Linked DNA regions of Homo sapiens: region 1 is linked to region 2. A link means that fine-mapping ties the variant in region 2 to the expression of a gene that starts in the linked region. Tissue or cell type: whole blood. Region 2 holds a variant in brackets; the other region holds the start of a gene. All regions are shown on one strand. Distances are from middle to middle.

The links. PIP is the estimated chance that this variant, and not a neighbour inherited with it, causes the effect.
Region 1: GIT2 starts here. The variant in region 2 is fine-mapped to the expression of GIT2 in whole blood (TOPMed, PIP above 0.99).

Annotation. Positions count from the first base shown.
Region 1 is chr12:109,991,365-109,999,468 of GRCh38, forward strand. GIT2 (GIT ArfGAP 2) reads right to left here and starts at 5,004. Exons shown (of 20, transcript NM_057169.5): 1 at 4,809-5,004; 2 at 263-396. The coding sequence starts at 4,860. It overlaps ANKRD13A (ankyrin repeat domain 13A), which reads left to right and starts at 8,066. Exons shown (of 15, transcript NM_033121.2): 1 at 8,066-8,104. RefSeq lists enhancers at 4,275-4,324, 5,015-5,174, 7,790-7,979 and silencers at 4,655-4,744, 8,060-8,104.
Region 2 is chr12:109,861,182-109,869,285 of GRCh38, forward strand. The region is part of intron 1 of GLTP (glycolipid transfer protein); the gene reads right to left. It also overlaps the pseudogene RN7SL441P. Among named protein-coding and RNA genes, the nearest start is that of GLTP, 15 kb to the right of the region's middle. The variant CA/C (reference allele first, on the strand shown) is at 4,995.

The DNA.
Region 1 (8,104 bases), 130 kb after region 2:
TACCAAGATATTTTAATGACTATTCATCTATCTACCTATAATTGAGCTTGTTGAACAAGATTTATGTCAAGTAGGAAGAAAAGTCTTTACTGAATTCAATACAGATAATATTTGTAAATAGCATTGATGGGCATGCCATCTCTATTCAATTATGAAACAGTTTTGTCTTATGGAAGAAGTACACCAGGAGAAATTTAAGTTATTAACATGATGAGCCCTAAAATGTAAATTACCAACTGTCAGGAGAATTCTTATCCTTTACCTGAAGCAGTGTTGGAGGCCACGGTGTGTGTTTCAGATGCCTCACTTGGGAGATATGGCGCCCTAGACTCCGATGGACACTGCAGCACTCATCACATAAAAACGTTCCCCTATTTACTGATGCCCAGGAAGGATCTGGAAAGAGAGTGAAATCTCAGTGGCAGGGATACCAGCAGGTTGCTATACCGCCAGATGGCAAAAGATGACTGAAGTTTGGTTTGTCAGAAAAAGGAGACATTTTTGTTTCAGTATGCTCATCAATGCATCAGGCTGGTCATCTTGTTGGATGGTATGACCTACCTTGGCTGATTAGGTACAATGTTAATTGAGACTAAAAACACCAGTGGGAGCCTTGGGTAAACAGTTATCTTCTTTCTGGTTCAGGGCCACAGTTTGTAGCCCTAATGTGGATCTACCATTTCAGATGCATGCTTTTTCATTCAAGCTAAGAAAGCAAATTGAGAGGGTACAGACGAATGATTTTGGATCCATCTCCATAAAAATCAAGATAATACTTTTTTTTTTTTTTTTTTTTTTTTGAGATGGAGTCTCACTCTGTCACCCAGGCTGGAGTACAGAGGCACAATCTTGGCTCACTGCAACCTCTATCTCCCAGATTCAAGCAATTCTCCTGCTTCAGCCTCCCGAGTAGCTGGGATTACAGGCATGCACCACCACGCCCGGCTAATTTTTGTATTTTTAGCTGAGACGGGGATTCATCATGTTGGTCAGGTTGGTCTCAAACTCCTGACCTCAGGTGATCCGCCCACCTCGGCCTCCCAAAGTGCTGAGATTACAGGCGTGAGCCACTGTGCCCGGCCAAGATAATATAATTTTGACAGTGAATTATGCAGATAGCATTTTCTGCAGTAAATGTTGTAGACTGCTGTCCTAATTCACTGCTATGAATCAACATGTCAATATGCTTAGCAGAAAGCTGCGAGTTACAGAATCATAAAATCACTCAGCTGCTATGGTTCTGAGGACAGGGAAACCTGGCCTCTTCCATTAGGAAATGTTCTATGATGTCCATGAATTGGTTTGTTTGTCTGTTTGTTTGTTTTGAGACAGAGTCTCACTCTGTCCCCTAGGATGGAGTGCAGTGGCGCAATCTCGGCTCACTGCAACTTCTGCCTCCAGGGTTCAAGCGATTCTCCTGCCTCAGCCTCCCGAGTAGCTGGAATTACATGTGTGTGCCACCAGCTCGGCTAATTTTTGTTATTTTTAGTACAGACGAGGTTTCACCATGTTGGCCAGACTGGTCTCAAACTCCTGACCTCAGGTGATCCACTCACCTCGACCTCCTAAAGTGCTGGGATTACAGGCTTGAGCCACTGTGCCCAGCCAATTAATTGTTTTACATAAACTACCAAGTCCAATCCTGCAACTGATCTGAAAAAAAAAAAAGAAGTTGCAATAACAGCAGCTTCACAGAGGCAAAGATGTAAAATAAAAATGAATAATATTTTTAGTGTGTGTATAATACTTTTTTCCCTTTAAAGTCATAGAGCTTCATTAGCTGTCCTTTGAAACAAGGAATAATTTCATACTTGGCAAGCAGGATGGATCTGGGTAAGTAAACTGAATACCTAGAAACCTCAAATAAAGAAAGAGCTATACTTCGTCAGACTCACAATGGGGTGACAATAGGTGCCACTTAAGCTGCCTGGTCAAAGGGTTACATTTAAAAATTCTTCAATGTCCACAAAAATCTCTAAAATGCATGTACACCATCTTTACCATTTTTTAAGAGTTTATTCAAACCCTTTCAAACCATATAATGAAAAGTTATGGGCTTTCAATCAAAGACGAATCCTGGGAGCCAGTGAGTATGGTGGTTAAGAGGGTTGGCTCTAGAGACAAGGAGTTCAGGGTTTGAACCCCAACTCTGCCACTTCTTGCACAATGATCTCAGACAAGTTACTTGAGTGTTTTCACCATGGTTCAAATGAGAACAATGACAAATCTCGGGATAGTAAGGATATAGAGAATAAGTGAAGTACCTCACACATAGTAAAGTAGTAATGTTAGTTGTTATATCTTTTCTAAATTATTTTCTCAGTATTCAGATATTTTCTAGACGTGAAATTCATGATCACTGGACAAAGTTTTTGATGGGAAATACTTAAAACATTGAACATTTCATGTGACCACTCTACTACTGTACTGAAAATCTCCATGGAGTTTTCAAGTAATTGAACTCAGAGTGTGATGTATTTGAAATGAACCAGATTCATTAAAAAAAAAAAAGTAGAATATTTAAGAAGATGTGATCATGGTTAAATGTTTGCATAAAATAAAACAGAATCAAAATAATTCAATTTAGTATAACTCTGTCGCTATTACTGTATCATCCTAAAAAGCAGAGATTGGAAATGTCCAGATGAAGGAGCTCTACAAAGATGCATTAACAACACTGCTTCCTGCAGTATAGTACTGACACTAATGGCAAAAAAAAAAAAAAAAAAAAAAGACTGTTTTGAAGCATAGCTTTGGTTTTCACTTATTCAGAGGATTTGCAGTATTCTTTTTTTAGCAAGTATTTAACACATATTAATTAAGACAAGTATTCGACTAACCACTTTAGCATCCTGGATCAGAATCCCATGGAAAGAATATTAGAATGTTAACATAGTAAAATAAAAATGTTTGTATGAATGAGATTGGGTAAAACCCTTTAAGTTCATCTGGAGCCAGGGCTCCAGGGACACCACAAATGAACTTCAAAAATGTTTGTGACTCCCCCAGACAAATCTTAGGTAAATTCGTTCACGTGCATTTTAGGGGAGAAGGCCTTAGCATTCAACAGAATCTCAAAGGGGTCCCTAACCCTACAGGTAATTCTCTCAGTAGGGCTGTGCAGAAAAGGCAGCACAAATTCCCAGCTGCTCAATTTCACAGAATATTTCAAGGTAGCCTAATTATATTCAAAACAGGAAGGAAGTGACTCAAGTCTCTGCAGATTAGGCGTATGAGACAACAACTAAAGCGATACAATGGAAGAGAAAATGTTCTGAAATGCACAAAATGCTGCAAAAGTATATTTAGGATGGCAATGGAGGAACAATTTTGCTTTGCCCTGTACCCTATCAAGAAGCAAAACAATATGCATTCCAAGAGGAAGTTAGAAGCTAGACACATGTGAATCAAATACATCACGGTAAGTTCAACTGAAAATAGGCAAGAAAATAAGGAAGTGGAACAAATAACATTTTTAGAGAAAATGATGGAGTTTGTATAACTCACACTAACTTGGTTTAGAAAACACTTCTTTTTAAACTCCTCCATACCCCCTCCCTATCTTCAAAGGAAACTGGTAACACCTGCACTGTACGGGCCATAAAACAACCACATGAGGTTTGAGTTATCACAGTTCTATTTACAATTGGTCTCCACTTCCAAATGACAAGCTTAAGATCAGAACAGTTGCAAAGCCAGTGGTGTTCAATGATTTAATTAAGATTGTTTATCGGACACTATTGTGCCAAGAAAGCCATGTTACCTTCGAATTAACTCAAAGCCAATACATCCAAGCACCTAAAACAGCATGTAATAATCTATCCAGAGACCTGACAATTCAGTTGCAATTGCTAAGACACACTTGATCTCTAAATGTGAATATTATGTATGAACAGTTATGCATCATTATGAAGGAATGGCTTTAGCGTTTCAATGCCCCTATATTGCTGGTGATTTTGCGTTTGTTTCCGTTGTAATCAACGTATGATTTAGATAGTCAAATATAGCTTTAAGGGACTACAAGAGTTCTACTGTAGACAGCATAATGCAAAAAAGAAAAGCCTTAGATGATATGATTCTACGAGTATTCATTGAATCTTCCTCACCACTAAGCGTGATACTCCCGATTATCCTCATTGAAAAAAATGAGGAAATCAAGCAAGTGACCAAGTGAAGTCACCAGCCCAAGGTCAGCCAGAAGCAAAATCTAGTTTGAACCCAGGCCGTTCAGATCCTCAAACTTGAGACAAGCACTGCCTCCTAAGTGCTGGTTGTGTTTGGAAGACCCCGATCTCCTGGCAATTCTCCCGGGCAGAGTAGCTGTCGGATGTCAGCAGCGGGGAAGTCATCTACGGGGACCCTCTGGCGAGTCTCAGGGAGTGTCATCCTCCCCGGGCAGGACACCCAGGCGGAGAAAGGGTCTAGTGGGAGGTGACACCTGCAGCCTCTGGAGGCTGCAGCCGGGAGGACGCTCACATTTTACTTCTGTAATTGGCTTTCCTGTGGATTGCCCAAGCCCCTTCCTGTTGGGGGAGCAGCCCTGGCCCCCGTCACCTCCCCAGTTGGCCTAGGACGGAGGGAACGGGAGGGAACGAGAGGGAAGGGAGGGCCGCGAGGGACGGGGAGGGCGGCGGCCCCCTGCCCGCCCGGCTCTGACAGGCCCGGGACGGTTCCCACCCCAAGGCCGCCCAGGGACCTCTTCGTTGCGACCCTAGCCGCGGGATGCAGCCTGACCTGAGGGGGCGGCCCCGGGGTAGGGGTCCGGGCCAGGAAAGCAGAGGGGAGCGGGCCCGGCCGGTGCGACTCACCCGGCCCGCTGCAGTCAGCGCACACCTCGCTGCTCCGGAGCCGTTTCGACATGGCTCCCACCTCCCACCTGCGGGGAACTAGAGGCCGGGGGACAGCAAAGGCGGCGGTGGCGGCGGCGCTTCCGCTCTAACGGGTCCCAGCTGCGGCGGCGCTGACGGCGGCGCCTCTCCCCTCAGCGCCTTGCAGCCTTGGCACAGCACGCACGCGCGGGGAGGTGCCCTTCGGCGAGTGTCAGGTCATGTGACCGGAAAGGGCACTCTGCCTTGTCGCCATCTTGAGTGAGGGCAGGAGACTGCCCGAGTATCATCTGTCCTACCTTTAAATATTGAATTTGGGTCTTCTTCTCTGGCAGAGATTCCCCTCGTCCCAACTGATTAATACCAGGGGAAGTAGCAATATCTTGTGATGAGAACCCTGCAGCCACAACCTTCCTGAGGCAATCAATGGTCAAGTTCATTCATTCATTCCTTGATTCAACAAATGTTTATCAAGCACTTACCATGCTTTATATACTGTCCCAGCCACTGGAGAAACAGCAGTGAGCAAAGACTGAATTTCTAGTCCTTATGAAGCTTGCATTTTACTGGGGTAAAGTAAAATAAGAATATATTATATGATTCCAGGCTGGGCGTGGTGGCTCACTCTTGTAATCTCAACTCTTTGGAAGGCTGAGGCAGGAGGATCACTTGAGGCAGGAGTTCGAGACCAGCCTGGGCAACATGGTGAAACCCCATCTCTACTAAAAATACAAAAATTGGCCGGGCGCGGTGGCTCACGCCTGTAATCCCAGCACTTTGGGAGGCCGAGGCGGGTGGATCACGAGGTCAGGAGTTCAAGACCAGCCTGGCCAACATGGTGAAACCCCGTCTCTACTAAAAATACAAAAATTAGCCGGGCACAGTGGCAGGAGCCTGTAATCTCAGTTACTTGGGAGGCTGAGGCAGGAGCTTGAACCCAGGGGGTGGAGGTTGCAGTGAGCTGAGATCACGCCATTGCACTCCAGCATGGGCGACAGAGTGAGACTCCGTCTCAAAAAAAAAAAAAAAAAAAAAAAAATTAGCCGGGCGTGGTGGCGCATGCCTGTAATCCTAGATACTCAGGAGGCTGAGGCATGAGAATCGCTTGAGCCTGGGAGGTGGACGTTGCAGTGAGCAGAGATCGCGTCACTGCACTCCAGCCTGGGGGACAGAGCGAGACTGTCTCAAAAACAACTTCAACAACAACAACAAAAATAACAAAAAAGAATATATTAGATGATTCCTTAGGCTTCAGTTTTAATCTCATGTTCAAAATTAAGATAATGCATTGTTTACTTCTAGTCCACGATTTGTTTTTGTATGGCTTGCTACTTAAGAATGATTTTTACATTTTTAAAGGGTTGCGAGATGAAAATGAAGAAGAGAGAGAGGGAAATAAAGAAAAAGAGGAAGAAGAATATGCGACAAAACTTGTATGTGACCAGCAAAGTTAAACATTCATTTTGGCTAAGGACAGATGGAATAAATTATGGGAAAAATGTGATACACCTGCTGGATAGTAACCCCTCAGTAAATAGTAGCTCCCATAATTATGGATATTGCTATTATTTTCTAATTACTGTTTTTCTTCATATGCGTGGAATTTGAGAATAACAATAGCTAACATGGGATAATTTACAAAATGGTGTGAGATAAACACAATGAAATGAGGTAAATCAGTGTGAAGGAGAAAGGAGATGTGACCCTAATACCAATGACTACTTATTGTCTGTCTTACATATAAACACAGCTATGATCTCCATTCAGCAAATATTGAATGCCTGTTGTTAGCCAGGTACTATTTTGGTTTTAGATACTCTGGTAAGCAAAACGATGTGGTTCCTGTCATTATGGGGTTTTCTGATTAATGAGATAGGGAGATTTTCAATAAACACGGCATGATGAAGAAGAAGGAGAACGTTAAGTTGCAAAAGGCATCTGAAAGAATGAGAAGTGCTGGAAAAGGCCTCAGAAGCACTGGTCTTGAGTCCATCTCTACAGTGTGATAAATGTGTGATGGAGAAATAATCACAGAATTCCCACGCATTCCATGGTTAGAGTCTCCGGGTGCCATCCTGGTGCTCCTGCATCCTGTTTTGGTTTAACAACTCACAAATCTTCTGGGCTCCACATCTGTGGAGAATGGATTAGGTTGGGATTCTTGAACAGCTGTTGTTGCAGGCATCTGAAGAGCTGGATGTGCATACACTCAGAGGGCAGAGGGAATGTTTTCACAATGCATTAAATAGCTTCATCCAGCTATGTGGTCTAGTTGTAGACAGCTGAGCTGAAGCAGCAGCAGAAAGTTCAAGCCCATGAGTAGCTAGCTGTAAGTTGATTTGGTTCTTCATTGAGTCAAGGAGGCATAGTGCCTGAAACTCAAAGAATAAACTTCATATTCGCAGACTGTGGTCAAATATGTATATTATTTATCAGTCCTTTCAGCCATAACCTCAAATCCAAAAAGCTAGCTTAAAAATGACATTCATACATGGACTAAATCACCACCATAGTTAGCTATTGAATCATAACCCGGTTCGGAGTTCAAATAGAAGCGGTTCTCAACTGAGGACGATTTTTCTCCCCGAGACGACATTTGGCAATATCTGGAGAGACATGTTTTGGGGAGTGCTACTGGCATTGAGTGGGGAGAAAGACCAGGGCAACTGCTCAGCATCCTACAAGGACCGGACAACCCCCACACAAAAACTGCCCAGTTCAATATGTGCCGAGGTTGAGAAATCATGAAGTAGAAATATCCCCTTTTATGCAAATACTGTATTTGAAGCCACTTCGCCAGGGTTTAGCGTTCCTCCTTCAAAAATTGTCCGGTGTTGCCCACTTCCAAAATGGCTTTTGACCCGTCGTGGAAGCATCTGTCCTGCTCCAAAAAGGCTGCAAGGGTGTCGGCAGCTGGAATGGTTTGGTCCGGGGCTCAGTTGTCACCCCCTGACTTCAGAGCCAATGGAAGAGGCCCAGTTGTGGACCGAACCACATGGGGCTACTGGAGCAGGGGGAAAGAAGCTGGGGACAGGTAGACGGAACTTTCCGCGTGGAGATCTTTGGCCAAGAGAATGAGCCTCAGCTCTGTTCTGTGGGCTGCACTGAGTTTCTCGGTGTGAGCTGGAGGTGGGTGCAATGGCGCGGACCCCGGACCCGGTGCCCAAGGTCGCCTATCCCCGCCGCGGCATGCGGTGGTTCGCTCTCCGCACTTCCCTGTTTGGGGCAGTTAGGTCCGCAGAAGTCTGTCCGCGAGCTGTCAGCGCGGGCGGGAACGC
Region 2 (8,104 bases):
AGGGTGACCCTGCACACCTGGCCAGCCATCTGGAACATTCTAATTGCAGCTATGAAAAGAGGTGCATGAGAGAAACAGCATTAAACATTTAAGGAAACAGCCCATAGCCCAATGGAAAGAAGGTGGGCTAGGGATTCAGCCAGACAGGGTGAGAATCCTGCACGACCACTCCCCAGCCAAGCAAGTCTCCTCGCCGCTGTGTGCCTCAGTTTCCTCTTGTGTCAAATGGGGCAATAGTAGTACTTATTTCATATGCTTCTTTAAGAAATTAAAAATAAGGCACCGAGGCCAGGCGCAGTAGCTCACGCCTGTAATCCCAGCACTTTGGGAGGCCAAGGCGGGCGGATCACAAGGTCAGGAGTTTGAGACCAGCCTGGCCAACATGGTGAAACCTTATCTCTACTAAAAATACAAAAATTAGCCGGGCGTGGTAGCAGGTGCCTGTAGTTCCAGCTACCCAGGAGGCTGAGACAGGAAAATCGCCTGAACCTGGGAGGCAGAGGTTGCAATGAGCCGAGATTGTGCCACTGCACTCCAGCCTGGCGACAGAGCAAGACTCCACCTCAAAAAAAAATAAGGCACCAAACACATGTAGCAGAGTGCCCGGTGAGTGGTGAACACTCAGTACCTGAACTTCAATCATTTTTATGACCTCATATCATTACTAGGGTCATGTGCTGTGACCCAGCAAATGACATCATCGTGGAAGCCACAGGATTCCCCAGAACCTCCATCGAGTGGGACTCATCCTTGACCTGTGCCCCTGCTGCTTTCTCTGTGCTCCCCTGTGAGGCCCCGCTAGGGCTGGGGCTGCCACCTTGACCTGCTGCAAGCTCCGGGCATGCTGTCGTCATGCTAGGCCACGAGCAGTCTCCTCTCGGCAACTGAGCCTCTTTCCAACGTCTGCAGAGGCAAATCTCCCAGCAAGGGGCCATGCTGGAGCCTTCCCTAGGGTGGTCACGTCAGAGGCTGCTCAGAGGTGCTGCGCCAGGGGTGCGGGCAAAGAATCCAGGGTGCTCTGGTCTCCCAGACAGGCCTGCCAAGCATCAATGGGGTGACGACTCCATGCCACCCTTTAACCTCACCTGATGGATCACTGACCTCCGCTGCGTGTAGAGGCCAGCCTGGGGAGGTCATGCCACTTGTTAGCCCTGGAAGGTATTCTCTTCCAGCACTGCTACTGCTGCCTCTCTGAAAGGACCGTGCATTCTCAACTTACATAATAACGCCGGAGCCAAGATCCTCTTTCCTCTGCCAGTGACTACAGTGCTGCCAGGGGGTGCAAATTCCAACCCTCACAGGGGGCCAGGCAGGTGCCATGGATGGGCTACATGGGGACTGGCAAAACCCATGCAGACGTATGGCTGTTCCTCAGCTCCAGCTGACGGCTTTACATCCTCATCTTCCCAAAATGTATAATGAGCTGGACGTGGTGGCATGTAACTGTAGTCCCAGCTACTCAGGAGGCAGAGGTGGGAGGATCGTTCAAGCCCAGGAGTTCAAGGCTGCAATGAGCTATGATTGTGTCACTGCACTCCAGCCTGCGCAACAGAGTGAGACTCCATCTCTAAAAAAAAATTAAAATGTGGGCCAGGCGCAGTGGCTCACGCCTATAATCCCAGCACTTTGGAAGGCCGAGGCGGGTGGATCACCTGAGGTCAGGAGTTCAAGACCAGCCTGACCAACTTGGTGAAACCCCATCTCTAATAAAAATACAAAAATTAGCCAGGTGTGGTGGTGCATGTCTGTAATCCCAGCTACTGGGGAGGCTGAGCCAGGAGAATCACTTGAACCCAGGAGGCAGAGGTTGCAGTGAGCCGAGACTGCGCCACTGCACTCCAGCCTGGGCAACAAGAGTGAAATTCCATCTCAAAAAAATAAATAAAAAATAAAAATGCATAATGTCCAAAGGCTTACATTAGACTGATGGATGGATGGACAGAGATATGGATAGATAGGCACAGTAAAATATTAATGGTAACATCTAGATGATAGGTGTATGAGTACTATTTGCTGTAAAATTCTTTCAGCTTCGCCACATGTTTGAATTTTCTCATAGAAAATACTGAAAAAAGTAATGTCAGGTTTTTTTTCTGCTCATAAAATCCTATTTCTTTTTCTACTTTTTCTTTCAAGTCTGTTTTACTGTTACAGTGATCATAGTCACATGTGTTACACCTTTGTTTTTTAAACCAACAATCTTGCCACCAGACTTGAGCTCTGAAGAGGGCAGGGACAAGGTTCCCTGCTATGCCCCCAGCACCCAGCAGATGCCTGACCCCAGTTGGTACTTGTATGACATCTGTGGAATGAATGAATGAGTGAATGAATGGACTGTGGGAAACGTGGAATCTGTCAGCGTATTTCCCTGCCAGGCTCTCCATCTCTGTACCCTCCTATGGTTCAGACTGACCCAACACACTGGTTTTAAACACCTATCCAACCCAGATGACAGAGGATATGTGAAGGGACTTTGGGCCTCAGTTCCCCTGTTTATAAAACGGATATCCTTCTAGGATGTTCTTCTGCAGGGCTGCTGTGAGAGAGAGGTGTCACACGTGCAAAGTGAGGGCTCAAAGCACTGACCACGATTGTTTTTACTGCCACTGGCTGGTTTTCAACCAAAGCCTTCCAGTGAAGAAGAGATGACGGCAGGGCCTGATGACAGATCACCATCGACCATGGGTGGCTTATTAGCTTTTCTTAATGACTCCGGTCATTCAACATGCATTTCAGAGATGCAGAAAAATGTTATGCAGCATCCTTGTGCAGTTCTGAGCAGCCCTGCCCTGGTGGCAGGGAGAAAGGCTTTTTGTTTTGTGTTCTCCTAACCATGAGCTACGAGGGTCACGAGGCCACCATGGTCAGCAGAAGCTGGGCCCCAACAGCAGCTGTTATTGTGTGTGGGGCCACCACACAGGGCCAGAGCTCCCGCTCAACAGTAGGGGAGGAATGTGGGGCCTCAAATGCACTTCTGGGGCTGGGAGCCTAGCAGAAGAGAGGGGAGGCGAGGCAGGGGCTGGGAACAAGACCCCAGACTACTTCCATGCTCTACCCACAGGGAGCCACCAGCAGGAAAGGCAGCTCTGTATGCATCTCTGTGTTACATAAACAAGCACGCTGAAGTGGGTTTGGAAGCATCTGGAGGTGGGCTGCCTGCAATTAGCAGTGGCGTCAACCTGGGCAGTGGCACTGAAGCAGTGGCATCCACAGTCCTGGGTTTGAATCTCAGCTCTGGTGTGAGTTTGGCCAAGTGACTTAACCACTCCAGGTTCAGGCCCTTCGGTTTCTACAGCCCAGAGGTGCTATGCAAACAGGAAGTGCTCTGTATATGGTTGGGCTGAAGCCTGTTTCAACATCACCCACCCAAGGCTCTGGGCTTATGTTTGCCTTTGGTGCAGTCCAAGGACATCAAGTCACAGAAAAGCCAAATGACTTGCCCAGGTTACACTCCAGGGAGTGCCAGGAACTCAGACACAATTCCAGAGCCAAAGCTGCTTCCACTACACCCTTAACCTTTCTGTCTAGAATGTTACCATTCTTTGAACTCAAAGAATGTTTCTTTGAGGTCCTGTGAACTCAGAGAAAATAGGAAACCAGAAGACGATTTTAATTCCCAAGCATGTGGTGGCTTTTCTAATAGTTTATTTTATTTATTTACTTATTTTATTTTATTTTATTTTTTGAGGCAGAGTCTCACTCCGTTGCCCAGGCTGGAGTGCAGTGGCGCAATCTAGGCTCACTGCAACCTCCACCTCCCGGGTTCAAGTGATTCTCCTGCCTCAGCTCCCCAGAAGCTGGGATTACAGGCGTGTGCCACCGCACCCAGCCTCTAAGAGTTTAAATTCAAGCCTGTGCCTGCTCTGAATACAGCATGACATGTTTCTACCAGGCTCTCAAGCCTTCCCTTTCCTACAGAATGCAGCCTTAACCCCAAATTACCCTTCTTGTTTGACCAGTTTTGCAGTTACTCCAAACTTGTTTTTTTCAATTGTTGTCAGCAAACAGCCTCTTTGAAATGCCACCCAGAACCTGTCTGCCTGGAGGGAGGGAAGGGACTTGGAGGGTTTTCTAGTTCATGACCTTCAGGGAGAAAGGAAGCTGTCTTTTAAACATTTTTTATTTATTCTTCTTCTTCTTATTTTTTAATAGAGACAGGGTCAGGCCGAGCATGGTGGCTCACGCCTGTAATCCCAACACTTTGGGAGGCCGAGGCGGGCGGATCACCTGAGATCCGGAGTTCAAGACCAGCCTGACCAACATGGTGAAACCCCCATCTGTACTAAAAATACAAAAATTAGCTGGGCATAATGGTGCACATCTGTAATCCCAGCTACTTGGGAGGGTGAGGCAAGAGAATCACTTGAACCTGGGAGGCGGAGGTTACAGTGAGTTGAGATTGCGCGTGAGATTCTGTTTGAAAAAAAAAAAAAATAGAGACGGGGTCTTACTATTTTGCCCAGGCCAGTCTCCAACTCCTGGGCTCAAGTGATCTGCCAGCCTTGGCCCCCTCAAAGTGCTGGGATTACAGGCGTGAGCCGCCATGCCTGGCCTGAAGCTGTCTTTAAAAAAAGAAAAATCAGATGTGGTCCCACCATCTTCTTTCACAGACCCAACTAGAGTGAGCAGATTCCAAATACAGTAAAGCCTTGGTTATCTGGAACAGCTGGCAAACGGCCCCTTCTGTTTAATGGAGAAGGCTTTTTCCAATGCACGCTACTCAACTCAGAAGGCACAAGGAAAGAAACCAATAAATCTAATTATAAAAAACAGAAACCTCCTATATGGGGGAGACGAGAAATCCCACCACCAACCAAAGCCAAACAACTAGGGGGGCAGAGAGTAGAGAGTCTGTGTAACAAGGATAACAGAAAAAAGGCTAATATCCCTAATATGTAAACAGCTCTTACAAATCAGTAAGAATAAAACAACAGCCCTACAGAACAATGGGCAATTCACAATAGAAATGAAAAGATGCTTAATCTCAATAATAA[CA/C]AAAAAAAAGTGAAATATTTTCCATCTACCATTTTTTAAAAAAAGAGTCTTGCTATATTGCGCAGGCTGGAGTGCAGTGGCCATTCACAGGTGCAATCCCTCTACTGATTAGCATGGGAATTTTGACCTGCTGTTTCTGACCTGGGCCAGTTCACACCTCTTTAAGCAACCTGGTGGTCCTCTTTGCCAGGAGGTCACCATATTGATGCCAAACTTAGTGCAGACACCCAATCAGTGTAGCACACTACAGCCAAGAACTCTTGGGCTCAAGTGATCTTCCTGCCTCAGCTTCCTGAGTACCTGGGACTACAGGTGTGCACCACTGTGCCTGGCTCTCAAATATGAATATACCATCAGCATTCTAGTTCAGCCATCCTGGATGGAACTCATCAAAATGTAACACAAATGTCACTGCTTTCATAGTGGAAGCCATTCGTAGCTTTCTGAACAGGGCCATCATCAAAAATACGAGTTATGATAAAGATGTAGCCCAGAAATGTCACTGGTCCCCTCAAACCGTCACTAAATGACTCTGGATGGTGTGCCTTTAGGCTTTTAGGACAACTAGACAGCTTTGTGTATCTTTTTTTTTTTTTTTTTTGAGACAGGGTATCACTGTGTTGCCCAGGCTGGAATGCAGTGGCACAATCATGGCTCATTGTAGTCTGGAACTCCTGGTCTCAAGCAATCCTCCCACCTCAGCCTCCAGAGTAGTTGGGACTACAGATGTGCACCACCATGCTGGGCTAATTTTTTTTTTTTTTTTTTTTTTACCTTTTGTAGAGACTGGGACTCACTATACCATTGCCCAGGCTGGTCTTGAACTCCTGGGCTCAAGCAATCCTCTAGCCTCGGCCTCCCAAAGTGCTAGGATTACAGGCATGAGCCACTGTACCTGGCCAACTTTGTGTATTTTTTTAAAACTCCTGTTGATGGTTGACAGCTACTTCTTCCTGCAGTGCTTCAATTATTTATTATTCTTTTTTTTTTGAGACAGAGTCTCACTCTATAGCCCAAGCCGGAGTGCAGTGGAGCAATCTCGGCTCACTGCAACCTCCGCCTCCCGAGCTTAAGCAATTCTCGTGCCTCAGCCTCCCGAGTAGCTGGGACTACAGGCGCACGCCACCATGCCAGGCCAATTTTTTGTATTTTAGTAGAGACAGGGTTTCACCATGTTGCCCAGGGTGGTCTCAAACTCCTGAGCTCAAGCGATCCACCCACCTCGGCTTCCCAAAGTGCTGGAATTACAGGCGTGAGCTACCGTGCCCAGCCAAATTCTTATAGATACTTAAATACCAAATAGCCACCAGAATCAGAATCTCCTGCAAAGAGAAGGTATGCACCAATGAGGGGTTTCATGCATGGCCTCTGGGACAATTCTGACTAGACAAGGGCTATCTGGGGCCTCCTGCCTGGATCTCTGCCACAGTTCAGATGGGTGACATTGCCCAGAAAGCAGAATTCCCTGTAAGCCAGCAGTGACCATATGCTACACAGAATCACACTAATTTCTCTTTTTTCTTTTGAGATGGGGTCTCATTGTATCACCAAGGATGGGGTATAGTGGCACAATCACAGCTCACTGCAGCTTTTTCTTTTCTCTTTTTTTTTTTTTTTTTGAGACGGAGTCTCGCTCTGTCGCCCAGGCTGGAGTGCACTGACACGATCTCAGCTCACTGCAAGCTCCGCCTTCTGGGTTCACGCCATTCTCCTGCCTCAGCTTCCTGAGTAGCTGGGACTACAGGTGCCCGCCACCACGCCTGGCTAATTTTTTGTATTTTTAGTAGAGACAGGGTTTCACCGTGTTAGCCAGGATGGTCGCGATCTCCTGACCTCGTGATCCACCCGCTTTGGCCTCCCAAAGTGCTGGGATTACAGGCGTGAGCCACCGCGCCTGGCCTCACTGCAGCTTTGACCTCCGAGGCTCAAGTGATCCTCCAGCCTCAGTCTCTGGAGTAGCTGAGACTACAGACACATGTCACTACGACCAGCTAATTTTTTGTTTTTAATTTTTTGTAGAGATGGGGACTCACTTTGTTGCCCAGGCTGGTCTTGAACTCCTAGCCACAAGTGATCCTCCCGCCTTGGCCTCCCAAAGCACTGGAATTACAGGCAGGAGCCACTGTACCCGACCTCATTTCCTCTTTTTCTGGCCTCAAGAGAGTTGGACAGTACTGGTCGTTATGCTCTTAGCAAGACCACAGCATATACCTGGAAGTTGCCATCCAAGCTGCCCCTCCATGCCTGCCTCTTCAAACAGCCATCTCTTACAACATGGGATGTTCCTGACATTGAGTAACAAGGTGACCAAATTGCCCTGCCCTGGCCTACCCTCTCGTTTCATCTCAAGAACAATGTTCAGGGAAAAAAAAGGACTCTTAAAGATGCACAGCTTGCTTCACTTTCAGCCTGTGTGATTCAGGACAGAACACACCTAACCCAATTCATAAACAGTCATTTCCAGAAAGGAAGAACAGGATGCCCGTGTCGTGATGCTACAAGCCTGGTGTGGGGAGGTTCTATTGCAAATTCAATGGTTTTTTTCATAGCTGGATAATAAAGTTCAGTTGTTAAACACATGAGGCAGATTAACTTTATAGGTCTTGGGTTACAAGGATCATAATGGAAGACACTCAAATTACAGCTGATGGAGATGAATCATTTATTAATCTGGGGGTGCGGGTTGTCATGGCTCTGCTTACTATAAGGCCTATTTTTAAGGATACGAGCCTTGAGATTACCTACATTTCTAAAACAGGTTCCTGCTCTGAGTCTACTACCTAAAGAGGAAAGAATGTTTACAAAACAATTCAAAATACTTCTTTAAAAACTTCACCCCCGGGCCAGGCACAGTGGCTTACTCCTGTAATCCCAGCACTTTGGGAGGCCAAGGCGGGTGGATCACTTGAGGCCAGGAGTTCAAAATTAGCCTGGCCAACATAGTGTGAACCCGTTTCTACTAAAAATACAAAAATGAGTCGGGCATGGTGGTGCACGTCTGTAATCCAAGTTTCTCAGGAGGCTGAGGCAGGAGAATCACTTGAACCCAGGATGGGGAGGTTGCAGTGAGCCAAGATTGATTGCGCCACTGCAATCCAGCCTGGGCGAC